7 linked regions of the Homo sapiens genome follow. The protein of the gene in region 6 purifies or fractionates together with the protein of the main gene of each other region. This does not show direct contact. Each region holds a gene or a part of one and is shown on either strand. Other genes may lie near its edges.

Region 1 (3,500 bases), on a different chromosome or scaffold from region 6:
TGCTTGGCGTTTGCTTTTTATTTGGATTGGGTCTCTACTTCTTGTGTGTCATTTCGTTTATGTGGATAGTTTTAAAATATCTTAAAAAGTCACTCTTGCAGGACTGATCCTTTGAAATACTCCAGCCATGACTAAAAGAGAAGCAGAGGAGCTGATAGAAATTGAGATTGATGGAACAGAGAAAGCAGAGTGCACAGAAGAAAGGTTGGTGTTTCTGAATTTATCATTTTTTTTCAAAATATCAATATACCTAATTAAAACCAGGAAACAAGTCATAGTTCTTTTGGACTGTCTTTTTTTAACTGTTCTCAGTATTTTAGGGAATAATGTATTGTTTTATTTCCTCTGACTTAATGTGGTTGTAGCTGAGAGGGAAAGACAGTTTTAAACTAATGGTAGTAAAAGGGTAAATGAAATCAAAAGCAATTGCTTTCAATAGTTTTCTCCTTTGGGGCATTTGATTCTTTATTCTTTTCCTCAGCACTGGTTGCTTTAATTTCAGAAATAGTTTAATTCAACCTGAACTCATTTAACAAATATTTATGAGTAACTGTTGTAAACAACTAATTGACAAGAATATGTGAATAAATAAGATACTAATCTGCCCTTATAAAGGCCACGTTGTATTTGAGGAGACATACAGGTATATGAGTACTTACGGGACCAGTACTAAGCATAAAATGTAGTGAAAAGTGTTAATTCTTGGAATAATAGTGGAATCATACTTATTTGAAAGGAGGACAGTAGTAATGAGTTCAGAATCCAGGAGAGAACATGGGTAGAAATAGACTTTGGGAGTCAACAAGAAGACTGAGGAAAGTAGTAGTTAATGGTCCCTATTGTACTCCGTGAAGTAGGAGGTGAGATAATAAGCTGAAAGTAAAAGGGATTGAAAAGTACTAGAGATCTCTGTGGAGTAACAAAGGTTTAGAAGTTTCTGCAGTGGAACTGGACAAGATAATTAAGGTTAAGGAGGATACTGAGTATTGAGAGTACAGTTGAGATTTAAAATCTTAAATTTTTAATAGAGCTTTTCAACTTGTTTATCCCAGTTTTTCCAGCATAAGAAAGAGGGAATGCATGCTTCTGTGGAATTTCATGTATAGATATTTGTGTTAGAAATTACCCCAAAATTCAGAAACTAAAAATGCGTAACATTCAGCCAGATGCAGTGGCTCATGCCTGTAGTCCCAACAGTTTGGGAGGCTGAGGTGGGCAGATCACTTGAGCCCAGGAGTTCAAGACCAGCCTGGGCAGCATGGCAAAACCCTGTCTCTACAAAACATACAAAAAAAAAAAAAAATAGCCTGGCCTGGTGACATGTGCCTAAGTCCCAGCTACTCTGGAGGCTGAGGTGAGAGGATTGCTTGAGCCCAGGAGTTCAAGGCTGCAGTGAGCCATGATTGTGCCATCGTTGTGCCATTGCATTCCAGCTTTAGTGACAGGACAAGGTGCGGTCTCAAAAAAAAAAAAAAAGCCCAACATTTTTTATTGCTCATTGTTTCTCAGAGAAACCTGGGAGCAACTTACCTGGGTGGATCTGTCTCGGGTATTTCATGAGTTTGCAATGAAGCTGTCAGCCCAGGCTGCAGTCTTGTAAAGACTTGACTAGGGCTAGGGTGTCTGCGTCCAAAGTCATGCTTGAGACTCTCAGCAAGATGCCTCAGTTCCTCATCACATGACTCTCTCTAGGGCTGCTCATGGGATGGCAGCTGGCTTCCCTTAAAGCAAATGGTCTGAGAGACAGAATGGCAAAGTAGAAAGCCCCAGTGTCTTTTTTAAGTAATCTAAGAAGTGACATATCACTTTGTCTTAGTCTTCTGGTCACACAGTCCAACCCTAGTACAGTGCTGGAGGGAACTTTAAAAGGGCATGAATTTAAGAATCATTGGCAGCCCTCTTGGAGTCTAGCATGCATATATTTATACATGCATGCACACAGATGGTCCACAAAGTCTAAAGTATGTACTATCTGACCTTTTGTGGATAGTCTAGGTTAGGCGACAGATTGGTAATTAATATGTATGACCTATGTGAAGGAGGCAGTAATTGTCGTTCACCTAACGTAGATTTTTGCTGTGCAAGAATTTAGGTCTAGTAGTATGAGATCATCTTTTTTTTTTTTTTTTAAGAGAAATTGGTACTTTAGATATTTGAGGTCTTCCAAGGTTTAAATGATAGCAATAAAAACTTTTTAAAAATGTTTAATGTTCAGCTAGTATAAAGTAGTTCTTTAAAAATTTGTTTTAAAAGTGACATTTGAATCTTAAGAGTAATTGTTACAAAAAAAGAAAAAACTGGCCTGACACAGTGGCTCATGCTTGTAATCCCAGCACTTTGGGAGGCCAAGGCAGGTGAATCACGAGGTCAAGAGATCGAGACCATCCTGGCCAACATGCCAGTCTCTACAAAAAATACAAAAATTAGCTAGGCATGGTGGCGCATGCCTGTAGTCCCAGATACTCGGGAGGCTGAGGCAGGAGAATCGCTTGAACTCGGGAGGCGGAGGTTGTAGTGAGCCAAGATCGCGCCACTGCACCCCAGCCTAGGAACAGAGCGAGACTCTGTCTCAAAAAAAAAAAAAAAAAAAAACCTACCAGGCTATAGCTGAAGAGTTTGGTAAAAAGGCTTACTTAAAGTTTTTTTTTACCTTAACAAATAACAATAGTAGACTAGTATTTTTAAATAAGCTTGTTTTTAATCATGAGGGTTCTATTTTATAAATTTTAAATGTTTTAAGTCAAGTGCAATGGCACACACCTGTAGTCCCAGCTACTTGGGAGGCTGAGGTGGGAAGATCAGTTGAGCTCAGGAGTTTGAGGCCGGCCTGGTGTGAACATAGGGAGACTCTCTCTAAAATTAAAATATAAATAAATATTTTAGAAAAAAGTTTAAGCTATATACATTCATTGAATATCATGTATGTATCTCATTTTACTTGTAATTTATGTGAAAACTTGACAGATTTTTAATGCATACTGTTTTTGACAATCACAAATAAGATTTAAATCATATTTAAATTAAACATGTTGGAATACTTAATTGAATTCCACATTCACCAATTCAGCAAATATTACTTAGTATTTGTCTATTTGGCCCTATATAAGGATTTGTAAGAGTTATGTAGGATTACTTACCAAAGATTTTAACCCTTTTGAATTCAAAGTGTGAAATAATATGAAAGAGCACTAAGACAGTTTTTAGGAAGAATATACATTTTTTTTTTAAACGTTGAGCTGTCCTGATTATAACCAGTTGTGTTCATATTAAATTAAAGGGAAAGTCTTTTATTTAACTTATTCTATTTTTATATCTTTCTTTTTTTTTATGTGGGGAAGGGAAATTGACTAGTAGAGATGGCATACAGATTTTGAGGAGACAATGTGTCTTCCTTTCTGGGTCTAAAATTCTTCAAAATAACTTGAAAATGTAATGCAAATGCAAACATAATGTATGTGCAATGTTTATATGTGTACACATACACACATATGTATGTACAT
Region 2 (3,500 bases), on a different chromosome or scaffold from region 6:
CCCTCAACAGTAATGATGGGATCTAAAGTTGGTTTTGAGGCTGCTAAGAAAGAATAAATACAGGCTGAGTATCCCTCATCTGAAATGCTTGGGCACAAGCATGTTTTGGATTTCAGATGTTTTCGGCTTTTGGAATATTTGCATTTTACTTATTGGCTGAGTATCCCAAACCCAGAAATACAAAATCCGAAATGCTGCAAATGAGCATTTCCTTTGAGCGTTATGTCAGTGCTGAAAAAGTTTCAGATTTTGGAGTGTTTTTGATTTTGGATTTTCAGATTTGGATTGCTCAACCCATATCTAAATTTTAAAATAACTACTCAACTTTAGTTTCTTTTGCTAATTTATTATTATGAGTAATATCATGTTCAATAAAGAGAAATGTTCAATGAATGCCCTAAACTAAAAAAGACTTAGATATCTCTTGAGAAAAAAGAAGTTATACTGCAAATTTAAACAAATAAATACTATCTTTCACCTACTGGAACTGGCAAACATTAAAAGTTTAGCCAGGCGTGGTGGTGCACGCCTCTTAATCCCAGAACTTTGGGAGGCTGAGGTGGGTGGATTTTGAGCCTGGGAGGTGGTGGCTGCAGTGAGCCAAAAAAAAAGTTTGATAAAGCTCAGTAAATGTATGGGGAAATGGGCATTTTCATGGGCATTTCAATGGGTACTTTTTTTTTTTTTTGAGACAGGGTCTTGCTCTGTCACCCAGGCTGGAATGTTAGTGGTGTGATCTCGGCTCACTGCAACCTCCGCCTCCCGGGTTCAAGCAATTCTCCTGCCTCAGCCTCCAGAGAAGCTGGGATTACAGGCATGCGCCATCACGCCCGGCTGATTTTTGTATTTTTGTACAGATGGGGTTTCATCATGTTGGCCAGGCTGGTCTCGAACTCCTGACCTCAGATGATCCACCTGTCTCGGCCTCCCAAAGTACTGGGATTACAGGCATGAGCCACCATGCCCGGCCTTATTACAGTTTCTTGGAGGATAATTTGGCAATCCTGATTAAAATTTTGAATGAATATGCCCTTTGATGTAGAAACTCCAGGAATTTATCACATTTTCACATGTACACAAATTTGTAGAATTGTAGCACTGTTTAAAGTAACAAAAGGTCAGGCATGATGGCTCATGCCTGTAATCCCAGCACTTTTGGAAGGAGAGGCTGGAGGATCACTTGAGCCCAACAGTTCAAGACCAGCCCAGGAAACATGGCGAGACCCTATCTCTATTACTTTTTAAAAATGTTTTAATTAAAAAATAAATAAATAAAATAGCAACAAAAAGGTAGAAACAACCAAAATGTCCATCAACAGGAGAATGGTTTAACAAATTATCACATAATTATATAATGGATGTAATGAAATAAAATAGGGTAAATCTACATGTACTGTCATGGAAAGATGTCCAAGACATACTGGTAAGTGTGGCAAAAATGGAAAACTCATAATAGTACGAGTCCATTTTACTTTTTTAAAAAACTAAGAAAATGCTTAAATCTGCAGAGATCTTTCTGAAAGTATTCACAAAAGACAACAGTGGTTACTCTGGGAAGTGAAATTGCAGGCCATAGGCAGGTGGGGGAACTTTCATACTTTACACCCTTAAGTACTATTTGATTTTCTTCCCAATCATATTTTTAAAATTTTAAAAGCTCATCAGCCTGATCCGGTGGCTCACCCTGTAATCCCAGCACTTTGTGAGGCCAAGGCAGGTGGATCGCCTGAGGTCAGGAGTTCGAGATCAGCCTGGCCAACATGGCAAAACCCCGTCTGTAATAAAAATACAAAAATATTAGCTGGGCATGGTGGCATGTTATTTGGGAGGCTGAGGCACGAGAATCATTTGAACCTAGGAGGCAGAGGTTGCAGTGAGCAAAGATTGCACCACTGCACTCCAGCCTGGGCAACAAAGCGAGACTGTACCTCAAATAAATAAACAAACAAGCAAACAAATAAATATAAAAATTTAAAAGCTCATTAAAAGCTTTTTAGATTATAAAACCAGATCAATATGTGATAGTAAGAAGTCACTGTTAACATCTTTTTAAATATGAAAATGGCATTATGGTCAGGCTGCAAAAAGGAAAGAATCCTGATCTCTTAGAGATACATACTAAGATATTTAGGAATGAAATGTTGATTCCTGGGATTTGTTTCTAAATAATCCAATTGTAAGAATGGGGAAGGTTGGGGAAAAGTACTGAGGATTTAGATAAAATGAGACTGTCAGGAGTTAATGTCAAAGTGAGGTGGAAGGTACATGGGAATTCATCATGTTATTTATTACGGGAATTTTAAAATATCTCTTCACCTTTGTGAGAAGTTTAAAAACAAAAACCAGATGGAAAACATTGAACCTTTCAGATACCCTGGGAAATTTATAAAACTGATAGCTTGATTAGGAAGTGATAAAATGTTTTTATGTGGCATTTATTTCTAGCACACACACAAGTGTCATCACAGAAGTGTTAAACAGAGTAGCTCCAGAGAGGCCTGCGAGCCATGCCCAGTGGAAGCAGGAGCGTCTCCTGGGCTCACACCTGCTTGGCTCTGGTCTGACTAGCAACTTTTGTACTGTTCTCACAACAGTACCTTTTATTTTCAAAGTAGAGGCAGACAACTTCTCTCCTTCAGGTTTCATCGTTGGGGGCTTGTTATGAACAAGTTTCCACCATCCTGGCTCTCCAAATTCCTGAGCACCTGAACGGAAGTACATGGGACTTCCCACGCTGAGGCAACCTGCCACGGTGCTCCACCAGGTAGACGTCTTTTTCCTAAAGAGTCCAAGAATTTAAAAATGATTGGCACTTTTGCTCATTATACAGAAAAGACAGTCTGTGTATACTGTGACTCCTGGCCTGCAACATGCAATGGCACCTCCAGCTACTGAAGGAGCAGAGCACGAGAGGCAGGAGAGAGGCTCTGGAGTTCGCCTGCTTCAAACCCTGGCGCTACCAACTTCTAGCAGCCTCGGTTTGTTCATCTGTAAAATCAGGATAATAGAACTTACCTCACAGGGTTGCTGTGAGGATTAAATGCAATAATTCAAACAAAGCACGTGAAATACTTCTCATCACAATCATCACGATTATGGAATTCTACAGGCTAATTTTAATTAAGTTGCTTTGTTATGTGAATTAAGCACAGCTCCCAAGAATAAAGCATACAAAAAGTGTAACTCCAAGGCTGGGCATTTTGTGATAGAAGTTAACTGGCTCCAGTAAATACCTCATTTTACCCGAGGAGTAGCACACATCTCTCAATCTGATCCTATCTGCCTCGATGCACTAGAGTGGTAACAAAACTATGTGGTATACTCCACAAACACAGAGAGCACCTACTGCACAACAAAATAACAAAACATGCAAAATGCCAACTATCCGGGTTCCCTAACGGAAATTCTTTCAAGGCGACTGTTCTATTTCCACCTTGAAAAGATACATCAATCCCCGGAAATCCTAGAAGACAGTCTTTCACAAGAAGACCAGTCTAACA
Region 3 (3,500 bases), on a different chromosome or scaffold from region 6:
AAATAGGTGGCCCAAAACTTGTGAAACAGAACTCATGCTGAAGGACGACATTAATCATAATAATTAAAGAGACAGATATTGCTTATGTAAACCGTATAAAGAATTAAAAACAAATCCAATTCTGACTTTCAATGTTGTTTCAACACCGAAAAAATATGATGGCTTATTCTTTGGTATGAGAAGTCATTTTGATGGTATTTTTACCCTATTAAACAAAAATGGGATTTAAAAATCTGGTTCGGGATGTTCAAAGATAATTGCTAAGGCAAATTTTGCAATTTGAGAAAACCTAACTGTAATGATCCATTTATTCAGTTATTTGTTAATACTCAAATTAGTAATTTTCACTCTGAATGGTAAATAAAATGTTAATAAAAAATAACAAGACATATAAACTTTCCCTAATGAGATGCAGTTAATAAAAACGGTTGTTTACTTCAGAGTATTTACTATAAACATGTCCACTTATGTTATTTTATTGCTATCTATATACTCTTTCAGTTTACTGTATTACTGTACTTTTCTCTAAAACTTTAAAAATCTGTTATCTAAAATCAATTCTCTAATGCTAATTTTGCAGGAAAACTGTATTTCACATTATTAATCTCATTAATATAACTTTCCTATAAATAAGCATGAAACATTTGGAGGATGCATATATAATGAGTGCTTGGTTACTATAGTAGCGAATGTCAAACTAATTGCTAAAAAAAGTCTAAAGGTTTTCACACTTTGAAAAATCTAGTATATCATCTATCATTATTCTCCAATATTGTGGCAAGAATAGTCACCGCAAGTAAAAATTAAGATACTGTTGTAGAGATTAAGGCAATTTTATTATAAATTCCTGATATATTCCACCCCTGCCTGTTCTTAATCTAAATGTAATTTAGCACTGCAAACCATTTATGAAAATAAATTTATTTTAAAAGGCATAAAAGTTATTAGTGTAAAAAGAAAAAATATCTATACCTACAAAAAAGGCCAAAGACACTAATGAAGTTACCTCAGTAAAGATACTGTAACATGTAACTTGGCCAGCCAAGTTACAACACATTCCTCACAACTGTATTATGTCTCAAGGTTCTGAGGATCTGAAAGGTCTTTTGATCCACCTAAAAGTGGCCACCAACCAAATTAATTTCTCTGAAAGACATCTTTAAGCAATTATTTCAGCCTAACCTCGCTTCATATGGACTCACTCAGATGGCTCATGTTTTATTAGGGACTTGAAGGTTTAAAAATATGTAGTCAATCCAGGGCAAAGTTATGTTGTTTGCCTATTTGTAAAATTAACACATACAGAAAATAAGATTCAAACTGATATTGAAAAAGACTAACATATTCATCTAATTTTAAAAAAAAACCTACCAATAGAACAAAATATATTTTATTTTAATTATACCAGCACAGTAAGGCCCAGAAAGACCATGGAGTTGCACAAAGAATGTTCAGCACCAGCAAGATAAAACAGATACTGGCAGTCAGTGCTAACGGCTAGCACACAAGCCCCTGCCGCATTTGTATGATCTGGAGCAGAGCCTCCTGAACATCTTCATCCATGTGACCCTTCGGAGAAAGAAGAAAGAGGAGCATTATTTTATGTCATCTTTGTTTACATAAGAATTCTAAAGATAAAGCTTTTACAGAGCATAACTAGTCATTGATTCATCAAATGCTAAATCCTCATCATTGTGATTTCTAAAGGAATTACTGGAAAAGGGAGTACAGCCCTATCATGAAAATAAGATCAATTAATAAGGAGTGCACGGCCGGGCGTGGTGGCTCACGCCTGCAATCCCAGCACTTTGGGAGGCTGAGGTGGGTGGATCATTTGAGGTCAGGAGTTCGAGACCAGCCTGGCCAACATGGCGAAACCCCATCTCTGGTAAAAATATAAAAATTAGACGGGTGTAATCCCAGCTACTCGGGAGGCTGAGACAGGAGAATCGCTGGAACCTGGGAGGCAGAGGTTGCAGCGAACCAAGATTGTGGCACTGCACTCCAGCCTGGGTGACATGGCGAGACCCCATCTGAAAAAACAAAAAGACTAGTGCACAACAGCTGCTCTAACTTCCATTACCAGAAAACAAATGGATAAACCTCCCTCTTTCTCTTTTTTAATAACAGCCTTGGATGATAGGGGCAGCATAAGTTATAAATGAACAAAGTAAACTACAAGGAAATCTGTTGTTGTTGCTGCTGAGGTTTTTTGTTTGTTTGTTTAGAAAACTAACTGATGGCTGAACATGGTGGCTCACACCTGCAATCCCAGCATTTTGGGAGGCCAAGGTGGGAGGATCACTTGAGGCCAGGAGTTTAAGACCAGCCTAGACAATACAGTGGAGACTGTCGCAAAAACTTAAAAAAAAAAAAAAAAAATTAGCTGGGTGTGGTGGCATGTGCCTGTAGTCCCAGCTACTTGGGAGGTTGAGGGAGGATGATCACTTGAGCCCAGGAGTTGAGGCTGTATGAGCTATGATTGTGCCACAGCACTCCAGCCTGGATGGCAGAGCAAGAATCTGTCTCCTAAAAAAATTTAAAATTTAAGTAATTGATTTAAAAAACCCATATTTATGTTTTTACGTAAATAAGATTATATAACACATACTATTTTGTAACTTGTTTTTTTATGTAGTGTCACAGAAATCTTTCCCTTGAGCTACCCAATTATTTTAAATTATTGTATAATATCCACTGCATGGACATATTACATTTCTTTACCCATTCCCCTAACGATGGACATTTAAGGTATTTCCAATCTTAATGGAAAGATTACTAGAGAAGAAATTGCTGGGTCAAAAAGCAGTCTCAATTTTTAATTCTGTTAAGTACTACAAAATTTCCCTCTACAGAGATTGTAACAATCTGTACACTACCATCAATGGAGTGAAAATGCCCATTTCCCATACACTCTGGCTAACACGATAGACTATAATCTTGTGTAATATTGCCAGTCCCACAGGTGAAAAATGGTATGTTCTTATTCATTTGCATCTCCCCCATTACTGATGAAACCAAGTATCTTTTTTACATGCATGTTAGCCATTTATATTTTTAAAAAATACTTTAAACTTAAAATGGTGGCACGAGTTGATTAAATGCAACTCAATATGGTGGGCTTATTAAAATACCGCACCCCCTCCCAACACACACATTTTTTTTTTCCTGGAGTACTTAAATAGGTTTCAGCACAACACTTCCTATTAATATGAAAAGTTTTGCTTCCAAAATCTGTTTCTATAACAGCAGGATGTTTACATTTCAAACATTAGCCATAGTTGACTGAACTGAATTTCTTAGTTAACTTTATGATGCCAGAAGGCAAGACTATTTCTGATGTCAATTGCTTTTGTTATGTTTCATTAGGACACAGTAGAAAATAATTTCAAATTCCGGAAGTGCATATTATACAAAGTGGAAAGGCTTGTTAGTTTGCTGTATTTTTCATTAGGAGCAACCTCTTCCTCTCATGGCCAATACTAGTGAGTTTCTCAGCC
Region 4 (3,500 bases), on a different chromosome or scaffold from region 6:
CTGAAGCACATGTGCATAACAAAGTTTATGCAAAGGGGAAGTGACATCCTAGGCCTAAGAAGAACTGCTGAAGCTAACTCAAAACCTCAGCAAAGAATGAAGACAATCACACTATGTACCACCTACCCAGACTACCTACTCAATAATTTCCCCAAACAGAAGCAGCCAGAAGAGCAAGGGCTATTGCCTCAATTAAGTGATACAGTCACATATCTTGAAGCCCTTTAGAAGCTTCAATGTTATATGACATAAGACTATTTTGCCTTGCTTCTTCTCTGAGAAAACACCAAATGGCAGATGATGTCGGTGGAGGGGGTGGGGCGGGGGCAGAGGCCCCGGGGGCCCTGGGATGGGAAACCGTGGTGGCTTCCATGGAGGGGCTGGGGTTGCAGCTGTGGACAGGGCTGAGGCCACGGAGCTCGTGGAGGCAAGGCCAAGGATAAGGAGTGGATGCCTGTCACCAAGCTGGGCTGCTTGGTTAAGGACATAAAGATCAAGTCCCTGGAGAACTACCTCTTCTTCCTGCCCATCAAGGAATCTGAGATCACTGACTTTTTCCTGGGGGCCTCTCTCAAGGATGAGGTGTTGAAGATTATGCCAGTGCAGAAGCAGACCCACACTGGCCAGTTGAAAAGGTTCAAGGCGTTTGTTGCCATCGGGGACTACAATGGCCACGTCGGTCTGGGTGTTAAGTGCTCCAAGGAGGTGGCCACTGCCACCTGCGGGGCCATCATCCTGGCCAAGCTCTCCATTCTCCCTGTGCACAGAGGCTACTGGGGGAACAAGATCCACAAGCCCCACACCGTTCCTTGCAAGGTGACAGGCTACTGCGGCTCTGTGCTGGTGCACCTCATCCCTGCGCCCAAGGGCACTGGCATCGTCTCAGCCCGTGCCCAAGAAGCTGCTCATGATGGCTGGTATTGATGACTGCTACACCTCAGCCAGGGGCTGCACTGCCACCCTGGGCAACTTCGCCAAGGCCACCTTTGATGCCATCTCTAAGACCTACAGCTACCTGACCCCCGACCTCTGGAAGGAGACAGGATTCACCAAGTCTCCCTATCAGGAATTCACTGACCACCTCATCAAGACACACACCAGAGTCTCTGTGCAGAGGACGTAGGCTCCAGCTGTGGCTACAACATAGGGTTTTTATACAAGAAATATAAAGTGAATTAAGCCTGAAAAAAAAAAAAAAAAAAGACTGTTCTGCCTTGCTTCACTGCATCCACAGCCAATGGAACTTTTAGGTATTACCAACGGCAAAACTGGTCCTCAGACTTCCTGCCCAGCTCTCCCCCACCCGCCTAGCTATGCTCTGTGCAACACGGCAAGCGACAGTCTCAGTTTGAAATTACATTACATTGATTTATTGCTACTGCTAATCATTTGTCAAAACTCCCAATGTGCTGGGCAGAGACCATAACAGTCATGGTCTCAGCTCTGAGAAAGAGTGCTTTCCTGAACTCCCATCCATACTTTGACTTTTGTGAGGTGAAAAACACCTAATGTGATTATTTACAATCTATATATGGTTAAGTTCCTAGTACCTGAGGTCTATATCCAACTCTCTTGAGTGTATCTACCCTTCCTCAGCACTCAATAGTTGTAAAATAATAACTGAACTTAAACATTTTTGAAGGTCTCTAGCTTTCTATTAATACTTTATCTACTTCACATACACACATATATTAGACATGAACTTACCTAACCCTTTCTGAATCTGTTTCAGCCTGGATAAACTAAAAAATAACACCATTTTAAAAAGACTTCCCATTTTGTCCAGAACTTTTCTTTGGAGAAGGGACTGCTCATAGTTTCACTGTTTTAGAATCTATACCATCTCAACTGTTCTTCATTTGGGGGACTCTGATTATGTCCCCTCAGCCTCTTCTTTCTAGTCAGACTCAGATGACCTTTTTAAAGTCTTTTTTTCTATACAATTTATTCAACAACAGAGTCTACACATCATTATACTCCTCCCACTTAGAAATTCTATCCCAGCGTTTTATTTTGTACTGGACATGTGGCATAGGAAATAACTTTAGAGCTGGCACCATCCTTTCAAATATATCATTCGGAAAACAGCAACATTTCTGCCTTCAAGTACTAGTATAGTAGGCCCTGCCTTAGGTGATGCCTACCTGTCCATGTCTTCCAGATTATCCACTGGTGACCCCAGCCGATCACTAAGCCGTCGCCGTTCTGGTGTGCTAACACAGAAGTGGTCATTGCCAACAGTGATCCTTAAGCTCTTTTCCAAAGAGTCAGAACACAGACCAGGAGAGCGTCTCTACAAAAGTAAAGGATAATATGGTTAGTCAATAGGGTCAAGACATCCCTACATCCAAAAACTCTCCTCCCTAGTTACAAAGTTAGCCAGGCATGGTGGCTCATGCCTGTATACCCAACACTTTGGGAGGCTGAGGTGTATAGGCCCAGGCAAGAATGTGAGACCAGTCTGGGCAACACAGACTCCATCTCTATAAAAAAAAGTTTAAAATTAGCCAGGTGTGGTCCCAACTACTCAGGTGGCTGAGGTGGGAGGATAGCTTAAGCTTGGGAGGTCAGGGCTGCAGTGAGCCATGACTGCACCACAGCACTTCAGCCTGGGCAATGAGCAGGACCTTGTCTCAAAAACAAAAGACAACCCTGCAAAGTTGGGGTTCAACAAGGTGAGAAATGGTTATGGTAAGACACTATACCAAAAATAAAGCACTTTTTAAAAATTATCATTTTCTTAGAGATATAAGCCCATACCTCTAACTCTCCTAAACGGTGACCTCTCATTCTTACTGGGCATGGGAAAAGAGAAGTGAATAAAGTCCCTGCTCTCAGAACCCTACTTCTAGTGTACATACTTCTAGTGAAGGAGGTAAGCCAAAAACAAGTTTAAAGAAAAAAAAAATTCTTCTGGTAAGTGCTATAGTCATTAAAACATGGTACCATAAAAGGAGTTACTTCAGATAGGATGGTTAGAAAAGGTTTTTCTCAGGTGATAACCTGAGGCCTGAAGAATGAGGTGTCAGCTTTGCAAAGAACAGGTAGAAAGATGTTTCAGGCAAAGAAAAGAACCACCTCAGTATAGAGCTTGGTATACTTTAAGTAACAGAAAAGCGGCCGGTGTGGCTGCAGCAAAGTGACAGAAGAGGAAAAGATAGGCAGAAAGCACAGTTGGGAAATTTGGATTTTATTCTTAGTGCAATTAACAGTTATAGGAGGGTTTTACACAGGATAGTGACATCATCTGACTACATTTTTCCTCCAGATGCTTGCACAGCACACCCTCACCTCCTTCAGATCTTTATTCAAAAATCACCTTCCCAGGAGGCCTTCCCTGACTACTCTCAAAAATTTTAACTCCCCGGGCCAGGCATGGTAGCTTATGCCTGTAAGCCCAGCATTTTGGGAGGCTGAGGCAGGAGAATCACTTGAGGCCAGGAGTTTGAGACCAGCCTGGGCAACATAGTGAAATCCCTCCCCACACCAAAACATTTTTT
Region 5 (3,500 bases), on a different chromosome or scaffold from region 6:
GGGCAACACAGTGAGACTCTGTCTAAAAAAAAAAAAAAAAAAGTATATATATATATATATATACACACACACACACATACAAAAATATAAATATAAAAAATATTTATATATATAATATATATATAACATATATATGCATCTCCTATATATATAACACCTATATATACACATTTCCTATATATATAAAACCTATATATATATCTCTCCTATATATGTAACATATATAGACAGAAGTGGTAATGGTGATAAAATGTATGAAGATGCTGGATTAAGATTATATTGGGGGGTGGCACAACGGCTCATGCCTGTAATCCCAACACTTTGGGAGACCAAGGTGGGCAGATCACCTGAGGTCAAGAGTTCGAGACCAGCCTGCCCAACGTGTTGAAACCGTGTCTCTCCTAAAAATACCAAAATTAGCTCAGCATGGTGACTTATGCCTGTAATCCCAGTTACTTGGGAGGCTGAGGCGGAAGGATCTCTTGAATCTTGGAGGCGGAAGTTGCAGTGAGATTGCACCACTGCACTCCAGCCTGGGTGATAGAGTGAGACTCCGTCTCCAAAAAAAAAAAAAATTATATTGGTAGTGACAGGAAAAGTTAGATGTAATTGAGCACTGGATTTGCTCAGTAAACTTTAGGCCATATATATATATATATGGTCTCGCTCTGTCACCCAGGCTGGAGTGCAGTGGCATGATCTTGGCTCACTGCAACTTCTGCCTCCCAGGTTCAAGCGGTTCTCCTGCCTCAGCTTCTTGAGTAGCTGGGATTACAGGCACACGCCACCACACCCAGCTAACTTTTGTATTTTTAATAGAGATGGGGTTTCATCATGTTGGCCAGGCTGGTCTTGAACTCCTGACCTCATGATCCACCCGCCTCGGCCTCCCAAAGTGCTGAAATTACAGGCAGGAGCCACCGCATCTGACCCTTTTTTTTTTTTTGAGACAGGACCTCACACTGTCACCCAGGCTGGAGTACAGTGGTGCAATTATGGCTCACTGAAGCCTCAAATTCCCAGGCTCAAGGGATCCTCCTGCCTTGGCCTCCCAAAGCCGGCATGAGCCACCACACCTGGCTGTGTCATTTCTTTAAAGGAGTCACCAACTGTTCAATCCTATTATAGCCGAATGGGTCTCAATTCAGGGAGGGGAAGGGAGGGTGACTGGCTTTTTATTCAACCACAGTCAGCGCCCTCTGCATGTCTGCTGCACATCCTTCTGCAATTTGCTTCTTGTGTTCAACATGTTGCTGAGATCTGTCTGTATCTGTAGACAGAGCCCTTGCCCAGGGGTCAGAAAGCTATAGCTTGTGGGTGTTGACCACCTGTTGTGTTTTCTTTATCTTTTGTTGTGGTGGTGGTGGTAAAATAAACAACATAAAATTTACCAACTTCCCTGTTTTAAAGTGCACAATTCAGTGGCATTTAGGATACCTCCAATATTATGCAACCATCACCACTATCTACTTCCTGAGCTTTTTCATGATCCCAAATGGATACTGTATCCAAGAAGAAGTCACTCCCAGCCAGGCACCATGGCTCATGCCTGTAATCCCAGTACTTTGGGAGGCCAAGATGGGAGATCACTTGAGCCCACTAGTTTGAGAACAGCCTGAGCAACATAGGGAGACCTTGTCTCTAGAAAAATAAAATTAGCTGGGCATGGTGGTGCACACCTATGGTCTCAGCTACTTGGGAGGCTGAGATGGAAGGATCACTTGGGCCCACGAGGTCAAGGCTGCAGTGAGCCATTATCACTCCACCGCACTCCAGCCTGGGAGGCAGCGTGAGATCCTGTCTTAAAAAAAAAAAAAAAGTCACTTCTCAGACCTCCCTCTCCGCCAGCCCCTTGCACCCAGCAATCTTTCTGTCCCTGTGGATTTGCCTATTCTGAAAGGCGATTTTTGTCAATAAACGTGGGATGGAACAGTCATTCCCATTCATTCACACACCATCCCTAGCAGTCTCCCGCTCCACAGCACTAGTGGAATAGTGGTGCCAGGCATGGTGTGTCCCGCAACACCTGAAACATTCATTGTCTAGCCCTTTACAGAGAAAGTTTGCTGACCCCTGCTTAGATCACTCATTTAGAGTTTAGTGATTGATCCATCCTCTTTGGTGTGGGCTCCGACCTCTTACTACTGCAAACAATACTATGATGAACATCTGCCCATGGTTGGGAAGGCCTCTCTCGGGCTGCCCAGGAGTGGAACTGCTAGAACAAGGCAAAGCTGGGGCCTTCGGCTATAATCCATGCTGACCAACCACTTCCCAAAGTAGCTGGAATCATCACCTTTCCCACCAGGCAGAAATCAGCTCCCGTGTCCGCCCTTGTCAGCACTTGGAGCTATCCAATGGTCGATTCCGCCTGCCTCCAAGGGTAACTCCCCCTCTTCCAGCTGACTTGGATGCTGGAATTCCAAGTGAGCTGGCTTCAAATGTTTCAAAAACACATCATGTCTTCTTCCTGCCAGTTCCATGCCCCTGTGCAAAGTGGCCAGGGAGGGTCCCTTCTGCACAGGACATGGTGCTGCTGCGTGTCCCTGCAGCACAGCTGCTGCTTGGGCCTACGAAAATCCATTCTCCCTTCCCCTGTGACCTCATCTTGACTTTCCTCACCCACACTTTGCCCCATATGGTTTCAATGTGACCGGGCCCATAGCCTGGCTCCAGGGTGCGCACATCACCAGGCCTTCCTGTCACCTTTGCAACAGTGATGGGCTCAGGAGCTGCCATCTGACCAAGGTGGCCCAGTGAGCATCACGCACAGGGCAAGAGGTGCTGTGTTTTGGCTGTGATATGGGCCTGCAGTAGGACCCATGCTGAGTGCCTCACGGAGAGAACCTGTCTAAGAGTGAAGCCAACAGAGTTCAGCAGAGTGATAGAGAGATGCTCTGGACTTCACTTGTGCCCCTGGATCAAGCTATGCCTAGAGCCCATATGGACTTCAGCTACATAAGGCCATAGACTGCCTTTAAAAAAAAAAAATGTGACCAGGCACGGTGACTCACGCCTGTAATCCCAGCACTTTGGGGGGCCGAGACGGGTGGATCAGCTGAGGTCAGGAGTTCAAAACCAACCTGGCCAACATGGTGAAACCCCATCTCTACTAAAAATACAAAAATTAGCTGGGCATGGTGGCGGGTGCTTGTAATCCCACTTACTTGGAAGGCTGAGGCAGGAGACTTGCTTGAACCCGGGAGGCAGAGGTTGCAGTGAGTCAAGACCATGCCACTGCACTCCAGCCTGGGCAACAAGAGTGAAACTCCATTGCTGCTGTTTTTCACAATAGCAAAGACTTGGAACCAACCCAAATGTCCATCAATGATAGACTGGATTAAGAAAGTGTGGCACATATACACCATGGAATACTATGCAGCCATAAAAAAGGATGAATTCATGTCCTTTGTAGGGACATGGATGAAGCTGGAAACCATCACTCAGCAAACTATCGCAAGGACAGAAAACCAAACACTGCATGTTGTCACTCATAGGTG
Region 6 (2,826 bases):
GGGAGTGTGTCCAACGTAGCCCCCTGGCCTGTGCAAGCCCTGACTCCCTCATGGTGCCTCGGAGAGTGGGGAGCATATTGGGCTGGGGTAAGCACTAGACCCAAGTAGACTGGACACAAAGGGCTCGCCCAGGGCCCTGGCGCCACCCCCACCCCTTCCCACCAGCTGCTGCTAGCCTCTGTGGTTGTACATCCCACTTGCCCCCACACGGAGACTGACTCTAAAACCCTTCATCCAATGGTGCTAACCCCCGGCTCTCCCCTGCCCCACCTCACCCACCCAGAGAAGCACAGACCCCGCCAGGGGCAGGGGCCCACCGCACACCCTTGTCCCGGGCCTGTCTGGGACTGGCCTTCCCGGCTCAGCCAGTGAGGCTCAGAAGGGACACAAAGAGGGATGGAAGAAAAGAACAAAGAGAAACTGTTCCTCCCACCCCCTTCCCTGATGCCAGGGGCACCAGACTGATTCTGAGGCACAAATAAAAGAGGCTTCATACCGGAGGCTTTTGCTACCTAACTTTACTTGGGGGGAACGCCTACGGTGTGGGTTGGGGTCCTTCTGAACCTCAGAGTGGAGAGAGCTCTAGGGTAAGAGGCTGCCTGATGGACCCTGAGCCCAGGAGTGCATCGCCAGGTCTCCCAGGAGCCTGGGGGTAGCATTTGCAGAGGCTGGGGGTCTCGTTCCCCTCACTCCCACCCATGCAGGAGGCACAGACTGAACGCTTAGTAAAATATTTCATTCAGTACGTCTTGTTTTTCTGAGAGAGGCAACGGCAGAGGGTTGGGGGCAGTGTGTGTGTATTTGTGATGAACCTAACTCCTCATGCCAGTTCTCTCGAGATTTCTTCGCGGGGGCTGCCGCGAGGAAGCAGCCCTCGCCCCTGTCGGTGGAAAGAAGGAAGAGAGTTCTCTACCACAGACCGCTGTGGGTGTAGCCACTGGGTCCGGCTCTGCAGCAAACGGGTTGTGTATGTGTCTGCAGAACTGGGGTGACGCCCATCTGGTTTACCGCTCAGGGTGATGGAATCCAGTGAGCTGATTAGGAGAAGCGCTGTCATTTTCCCCAGCCTGGGGGTACCCATCAAATCGCCACCCGTTTGAGGTCAAGCTCAGGCTCCAATAACCCCAAGCATCACGCTAATACTAAGCACTTTCCCTGCCCTGGGCGGAGGACAAAGGGGGACACCACCTCGCCGTGCAGCACCATTGCTGAGCCCCCCAGGTTACCCCAGGCCTCCCTAGGCCAGCTCCAGCCGAGTCCCAGACGAGGCTCGCAGTCCAGCCTCCGCTGGAGCGACGTGGGTCTCCCCTAAGCTCCAAGAGTTCTGGTCTCCCGCGAGGGGCGGAGTTCCCTCCCCAGTCCCGCCCCCGGGCCCAGCCCAAGAAGGCGGGGTCCGGAGTTCGGGACTAAAAGCCGGGGCGGGGCCGAGCTTGTGCGCCCCGCCCCGCTCCGCCTGCCTGGCGCGCGGGGCTAGTCCGTGCCGTCCACCAGCTCGCACAGCATGTTCTCCAGAGCCGTGATGCGCTGCTCCTGGGCCTGCACCCGCTCGCGGAGGGCCTTGATCTCTTCCAGCAGCGTCTCCAGGGTGTGCTGCTGCTGGGGCGGAGGACAGAGAGGCCGTGTCGTATAGGGGCGGTTGGGGGAGATGTAGATTGGGCCAGAGTGCAGCAGGGCCGATCTTACCGACAAGGGGGCGTCGCTGGCCGACTGGCTGCGGCGGGGGCCGGAGGGCGGGCGCACGTCCAGGATGTTGCGCTTCGTGACCCGGAGCTCGCGGTGCTTGGGGGGCACATAGCCGTCCCTCAGCGAAATGAGCACGGGTTCGGCGTCCTGGCCGGATAGCCATTCGTCCGCTTCTAGGGCCGGCTCCGGGCCTGGCGTATCCGGGTACAGATCGTCCTGGAAGAGGTCTGACTGCGGGGGTGGGTGGACAGGAGGACTTGCGTGAGAGGGTGCGGGGCTTGCTCCGCTCCCTTCCGCCTCGTAGCCCTGCCCAACCCTTCTCCCGGCCCCTCACCTTGCGGGGCACAGTCATGATGATAGGTTCACACTTTCTTTCGTGTAGCTTGTAGAACCTATAAGGGAGCAGGGTTCAGCACCCTCGCAGACTTCCACGTCCTTAACTTCTCCTGTCTAAGACCAAGGGGGTTGGAGGCCAACACTTGCTCAGCGCCTACCATGCATATTGCACATTACACACATTATTGGTTCTGCAATAAAACACCCTGATGGTGTGTTCACCATCATCTTATAGATGAGGAAACTGAAGTTGAGAATGTAAGGCTAGTGAGCGGTGGGTCTGGCACTGAAACAGAGCTGTCTTATCCCCCCGCCCCGCTTTTCCAAAGCACTGCATTACTGGGGAAGCCCCGTGGCTAGGACCCGACATGAGTGGGGGACAGAGGCGGGTAGGTGTTCAGGAGGGGCCAAGGCTGCTGACCGGGCGATCTCACACTTGCTGACATCCAGTCCCCTTTTGGGCATGAAACCCATGCCCCGCTGCGGCTCTTTGCTGCTGAACGTGTTCAGGTAGTGCACGAAAGGCGGCTCGTCGGTAATCTCAAAGTACCGAATGCTGCTGTCGCCCTGCAAAATCAGTCGGTTCAGGGGCGCGCCCGGACAAGGCCCTCCACATCTCCATCCAGTGCCCTGTTCTCCCTGCCCGGCCGTGAGCACCTTGCCACACAGGTAGACGATGCTGGAGTCGGGATCGTAAAAGGGCAATAGGACCCCGTTGCTTGTGTCCATCTCCTGCAGTGCCACTGGCTCCTCGAAGTTGTTCTGCCCGAGCACAGGAGGCGTGACCAGCCCTGCCCCACCCTCCCG
Region 7 (3,500 bases), on a different chromosome or scaffold from region 6:
CTCTTTGAGCCCAAGGGTCCATATCTGAAAAATAAGGTTAATAATGCCTATTGGGAAGGGCCATCATAAGGATGAAGTGAGGTTACACGTATTAAGTGAGGTGACATTAAATGAGGGCACACAGTGGATGGCAAGTAAACCATGGCGATTGCTGGACTGGTGGAGTGTTAAGTGCTGTGGTGTTTTCTGATGGGAGTGGGCAAGGAGGCAGGGAAATGGCTCAGGGCAGCACTAGAGTTTGAGGCTGGTTACCTTTAGACAGTCGTTTTCTGACTGAGCCTTAGTTCTCTTTATTGTCAAATGGAGACAGCCCATGAAAGTGTGGTATAGGTGGGAAAACATGGTGGCTGCCGCAACCCTCTGTTGTAAAGGCCACCTCTCCAGCTTGGAGTGCCATGGCCGCTGTCTTTAATACTCCCTTGGAGCTGGCTCAGCTTTGGCTCATCCAGGAGGGTTTCTATTGCTAAAGTCAGTGGTACTCACCCTGCCTCCCTGCAGCATCCACTGTGCTTCCAGAGGCTGAGCTCAGCACTGTCCATTTCTGGGCCATTCTGCAGAAACTCACATTTTCCATTCCCTCCTTCCTAAGCAGCCAGCAGCACCAGACTCTGGCCCATTCCATGACAATGCTGGCTGTGGGACAGAAGAGTTCCCTGCTCACACCCTTCCTCCAGTGGAAGAGTGTGTGTCTGCACTGCTAGGGGGTCCTCTGGAAGGAGTGGGCACAGCACTGAACATTTCTTAAGAAAGGCCTGCTGGTAGCTTCAGATAAGCACCTCTCACAGCCCAGCCGTTTGAAGGACTGGCCCAGTCTTCATCCCTATTTTATAGATGAGGAAATGGAGGCCCAGAGCTGGTCAGTGACTGTCTGAGTCACCATTCCTCACCACTGCACTCTGCTGTGTCTCCTGACAGAACTGCCTTAGTCTGGGGGCCACTGTGGTAGGCTGAAGTCTCTCCTGGCAAGGCTGGTGGACTTCTGAAATTTCCTTTTGGGATGGGCTTCTGGGTAAGCATTGAGATCTGAAGCACGTTGATTCCTGGAGGACTGGAAGAGACCCAGCCCTGATGGCCGAAGTCTTAGAAATGGCCACGGAAGTGGCCGACATGCTGATGATAGGTGTGTGGACACGGTGCTGCTCATGCTGTCAAGAACATCCCTCTGGCTCATGTCTCACATTCAAGTTCTCCTGTAGCTACCATGAGGGCCAGCATTTTTCCAAGTTCAAATCAGCATGCCCTTGAAAGTTTGTGATCTATGAGAATAGAATACTTACCTAATAAAGGAAAACATGCAGGTAGGGTCCATGTGCTGAACCACATTCCCACAGGAACAAGTCCACAGAGGAACTGCAGGCTCTAAGACCAGCCCTGCCCTTGGACATCCTTGGCTCCAGCATCCCGCCCACTGAACATGTGCACAGCACTTCTTCGGTCCACAGAAGCCTTTGTGCATAAGGCAAGGAGCTGACTTTGCTGAATTTAGGGGCTGAAGGGCCTTACGCAGAAACACTAAGCCCCTCACCTCCTGGAGTCCTATCTGAAGCAGCCCAGGGGTGCCTTTCCTGTGGAGTCTGATTCCTGCCAGCCATGTGCCAGCCTGGGACATGCACACAGAAATCTTTGTTTTTCCAGGGGATCTGGGCCAGGGTGGGGTTGGAACACCCCTCTCCCCGCCACACACACACTTCCACCAAGTTCTGGGCCACAGCTTCTTGGGCCTGGGAAAGGCATTTGTGAAGCCTGGCACACCCCCATGTTGAAGGGTGGGGAATTAGAGTTGAGCTGACCAGGAAGAGGAGGGACTTCAGGCCCAGGCCAGGCTTCAGCATCTCTGGACTCACCTGGATGCCTGCTGGTGGGTGCCAGCTGCTTGAAGATATGGGAGGCAGCTAGCTTCCCTGAGGGGCTCCAAGAGCAGGCTGAGGCCACTCACTGGCCTGCCTACCTGCCCTCCTCCCCAGGCCCCTTCCTGCCTGGATCACAAGGCATTCTGATTCCACTCCCCACTTAAGGCCTCTGCCTGGAAAGGTATGTGTGTGGACCCAGATGTGGGAACACCGCCACGCTGCTGTTTCTTACTGACACTTGGAGCTTACCTTCTCAAATTTGCTGGTGGTTTTCCCTTTCATCCTTTGGAGGGGCTATTCCTCTCACAGTATTTCTTCAAGCACTGGATAGACTGAGGAACTTTTTTCTTTCTGTCTTTAGCCAGAAGTGGACTTCCCTGTCCCCCCAGGCAGAGGCAGGAGTGTGGAGTCTGTGCAGAGCCAGCCCCAGGAGCCCGTGAGTGTGCCCCAGACACTGACTAGCACGCTGGAGCACATTGTGGGCCAGCTGGATGTCCTCACTCAGGTAGGCCACACTGTGGGTTCACCCGTCATCCCGTCATCTGCACTTGGTCCCGCATTTGGACCGTTTGAAGTTGGACAACAGGTGCTGGATTTTTAAAAACATAATTATAACGGACCTGTTTTCCAGTCCATATTAATGACATTGCAGAGCCTTCCCGGGGATCCTGGCTCTTGGAGCCATTCAAGCCCTGGCCAGACCACTAGACTCCAAAATCCCCAATGCTGGGTACTACTGGAGTGTGCTCACCTAGAGCTGGCCTGGGCCACTGAAGAGCTTTGAAAGAAACACTGTGTTTGTTTATTCCTCCCACTCTTTGCTGGATGGGCACTGCAGGGGCATGCCAGGGAACTGAGTAGTGAGTCAGGGCTTCTGAGAACCTAGGCTATGAGTTTGAGCCTGGACCTTTCCTTATCCTCTGTGCAACCTTGGGGAAATCCCTTTAGTTCACCAAGCCCTGGTATGTTTATCTGTAATGTGCTGGTGGTTGTGGGCTCTGCCTGCCACATTCATGGTGAGAATTAAGGGAGATGAATCTGGGAAATGTTTGGCCCATGCCTGGCCCTAGGTAGCTGCTCAATAAATGTTAGTTGTGGCCCTGACCACCCTCGTCACTGAGATGGATATGGGCCCTGCCCTCTGGAGCGTAGGTTGGCAGCCATAACACAGGCTCGTAGTGTAGCAGTTTCAGTAAGAGCAAAATCCCTTGACAAGAGGTGGTGGCCAGCAATAGGGGCATGCTTGGCAGGGCCATTTCACCCGAGGGAGGAAGAGAGGTCCTGGCTGCCTGTGGCTCTGGAGAGGCCATGGGCACGTCCAGGGAATGAGTGAAGCTCCAGGTGGCTGTCATGTGGATATGTGGTCTTGGGGTGGGGGGCAAGGCAGGATTTAGAGGTTCCCCAATTCCTCATCTCCTTGGCTCTTGAGGCCAGGCTGGGACTCTGCAGATCCTCCTCTACCATGCCAGCACATGGGTAGAGCGAGGCTGCAAGAGGGACACATGTGGCCCACGAGGAAAAGAGGTGTTAAAGCCAGGGGGTGGGGGATGGGGAAGCAAGGAAGAGTGGTCTCCAGTCCAGCTCACATGAAGGACGCAAAGGACCCTTGATGTCACTAACGGAAATGGAGCTGAGATGGCATGGTATCCT

What was found.
Region 1: the proteins of CORO6 (region 6) and GABPA purify together in Homo sapiens (affinity purification with mass spectrometry; one large-scale study listed by BioGRID and IntAct). This does not show direct contact.
Region 2: the proteins of CORO6 (region 6) and KAT14 purify together in Homo sapiens (affinity purification with mass spectrometry; 2 studies listed by BioGRID and IntAct, with this or other methods). This does not show direct contact.
Region 3: the proteins of CORO6 (region 6) and UACA purify together in Homo sapiens (affinity purification with mass spectrometry; 2 studies listed by BioGRID and IntAct, with this or other methods). This does not show direct contact.
Region 4: the proteins of CORO6 (region 6) and ZNF318 purify together in Homo sapiens (affinity purification with mass spectrometry; one large-scale study listed by BioGRID and IntAct). This does not show direct contact.
Region 5: the proteins of CORO6 (region 6) and PPP1R12C purify together in Homo sapiens (affinity purification with mass spectrometry; one large-scale study listed by BioGRID and IntAct). This does not show direct contact.
Region 7: the proteins of CORO6 (region 6) and POC1A purify together in Homo sapiens (affinity purification with mass spectrometry; 2 studies listed by BioGRID and IntAct, with this or other methods). This does not show direct contact.

The regions. Positions count from the first base shown.
Region 1 is NC_000021.9:25,741,472-25,744,971, forward strand, and holds part of GABPA (GA-binding protein alpha chain), read left to right. Parts: intron 1-89; exon of another isoform or gene 90-101; 5' UTR 102-127; coding exon 128-204; intron 205-3,500.
Region 2 is NC_000020.11:18,158,363-18,161,862, reverse strand, and holds part of KAT14 (cysteine-rich protein 2-binding protein), read right to left. Parts: intron 2,780-3,500; coding exon 2,598-2,779; intron 44-2,597; coding exon of another isoform or gene 41-43; coding exon 1-40. UniProt on the Homo sapiens protein: Component of the ATAC complex, a complex with histone acetyltransferase activity on histones H3 and H4. May function as a scaffold for the ATAC complex to promote ATAC complex stability. Has also weak histone acetyltransferase activity toward histone H4.
Region 3 is NC_000015.10:70,655,559-70,659,058, forward strand, and holds part of UACA (uveal autoantigen with coiled-coil domains and ankyrin repeats), read right to left. Parts: intron 1,570-3,500; coding exon 1,498-1,569; 3' UTR 1-1,497. UniProt on the Homo sapiens protein: Regulates APAF1 expression and plays an important role in the regulation of stress-induced apoptosis. Promotes apoptosis by regulating three pathways, apoptosome up-regulation, LGALS3/galectin-3 down-regulation and NF-kappa-B inactivation.
Region 4 is NC_000006.12:43,363,148-43,366,647, forward strand, and holds part of ZNF318 (zinc finger protein 318), read right to left. Parts: intron 2,294-3,500; coding exon 2,145-2,293; intron 1,073-2,144; exon of another isoform or gene 268-1,072; intron 1-267.
Region 5 is NC_000019.10:55,104,138-55,107,637, forward strand, and holds part of PPP1R12C (protein phosphatase 1 regulatory subunit 12C), read right to left. Parts: intron 1-3,500. UniProt on the Homo sapiens protein: Regulates myosin phosphatase activity.
Region 6 is NC_000017.11:29,614,262-29,617,087, forward strand, and holds the end of CORO6 (coronin-6), read right to left. Parts: intron 2,782-2,826; coding exon 2,677-2,781; intron 2,587-2,676; coding exon 2,441-2,586; exon of another isoform or gene 2,440-2,440; intron 2,076-2,439; coding exon 2,018-2,075; intron 1,915-2,017; coding exon 1,684-1,914; intron 1,597-1,683; coding exon 1,471-1,596; 3' UTR 501-1,470; downstream 1-500.
Region 7 is NC_000003.12:52,095,424-52,098,923, reverse strand, and holds part of POC1A (POC1 centriolar protein homolog A), read left to right. Parts: intron 1-2,211; coding exon 2,212-2,355; intron 2,356-3,500.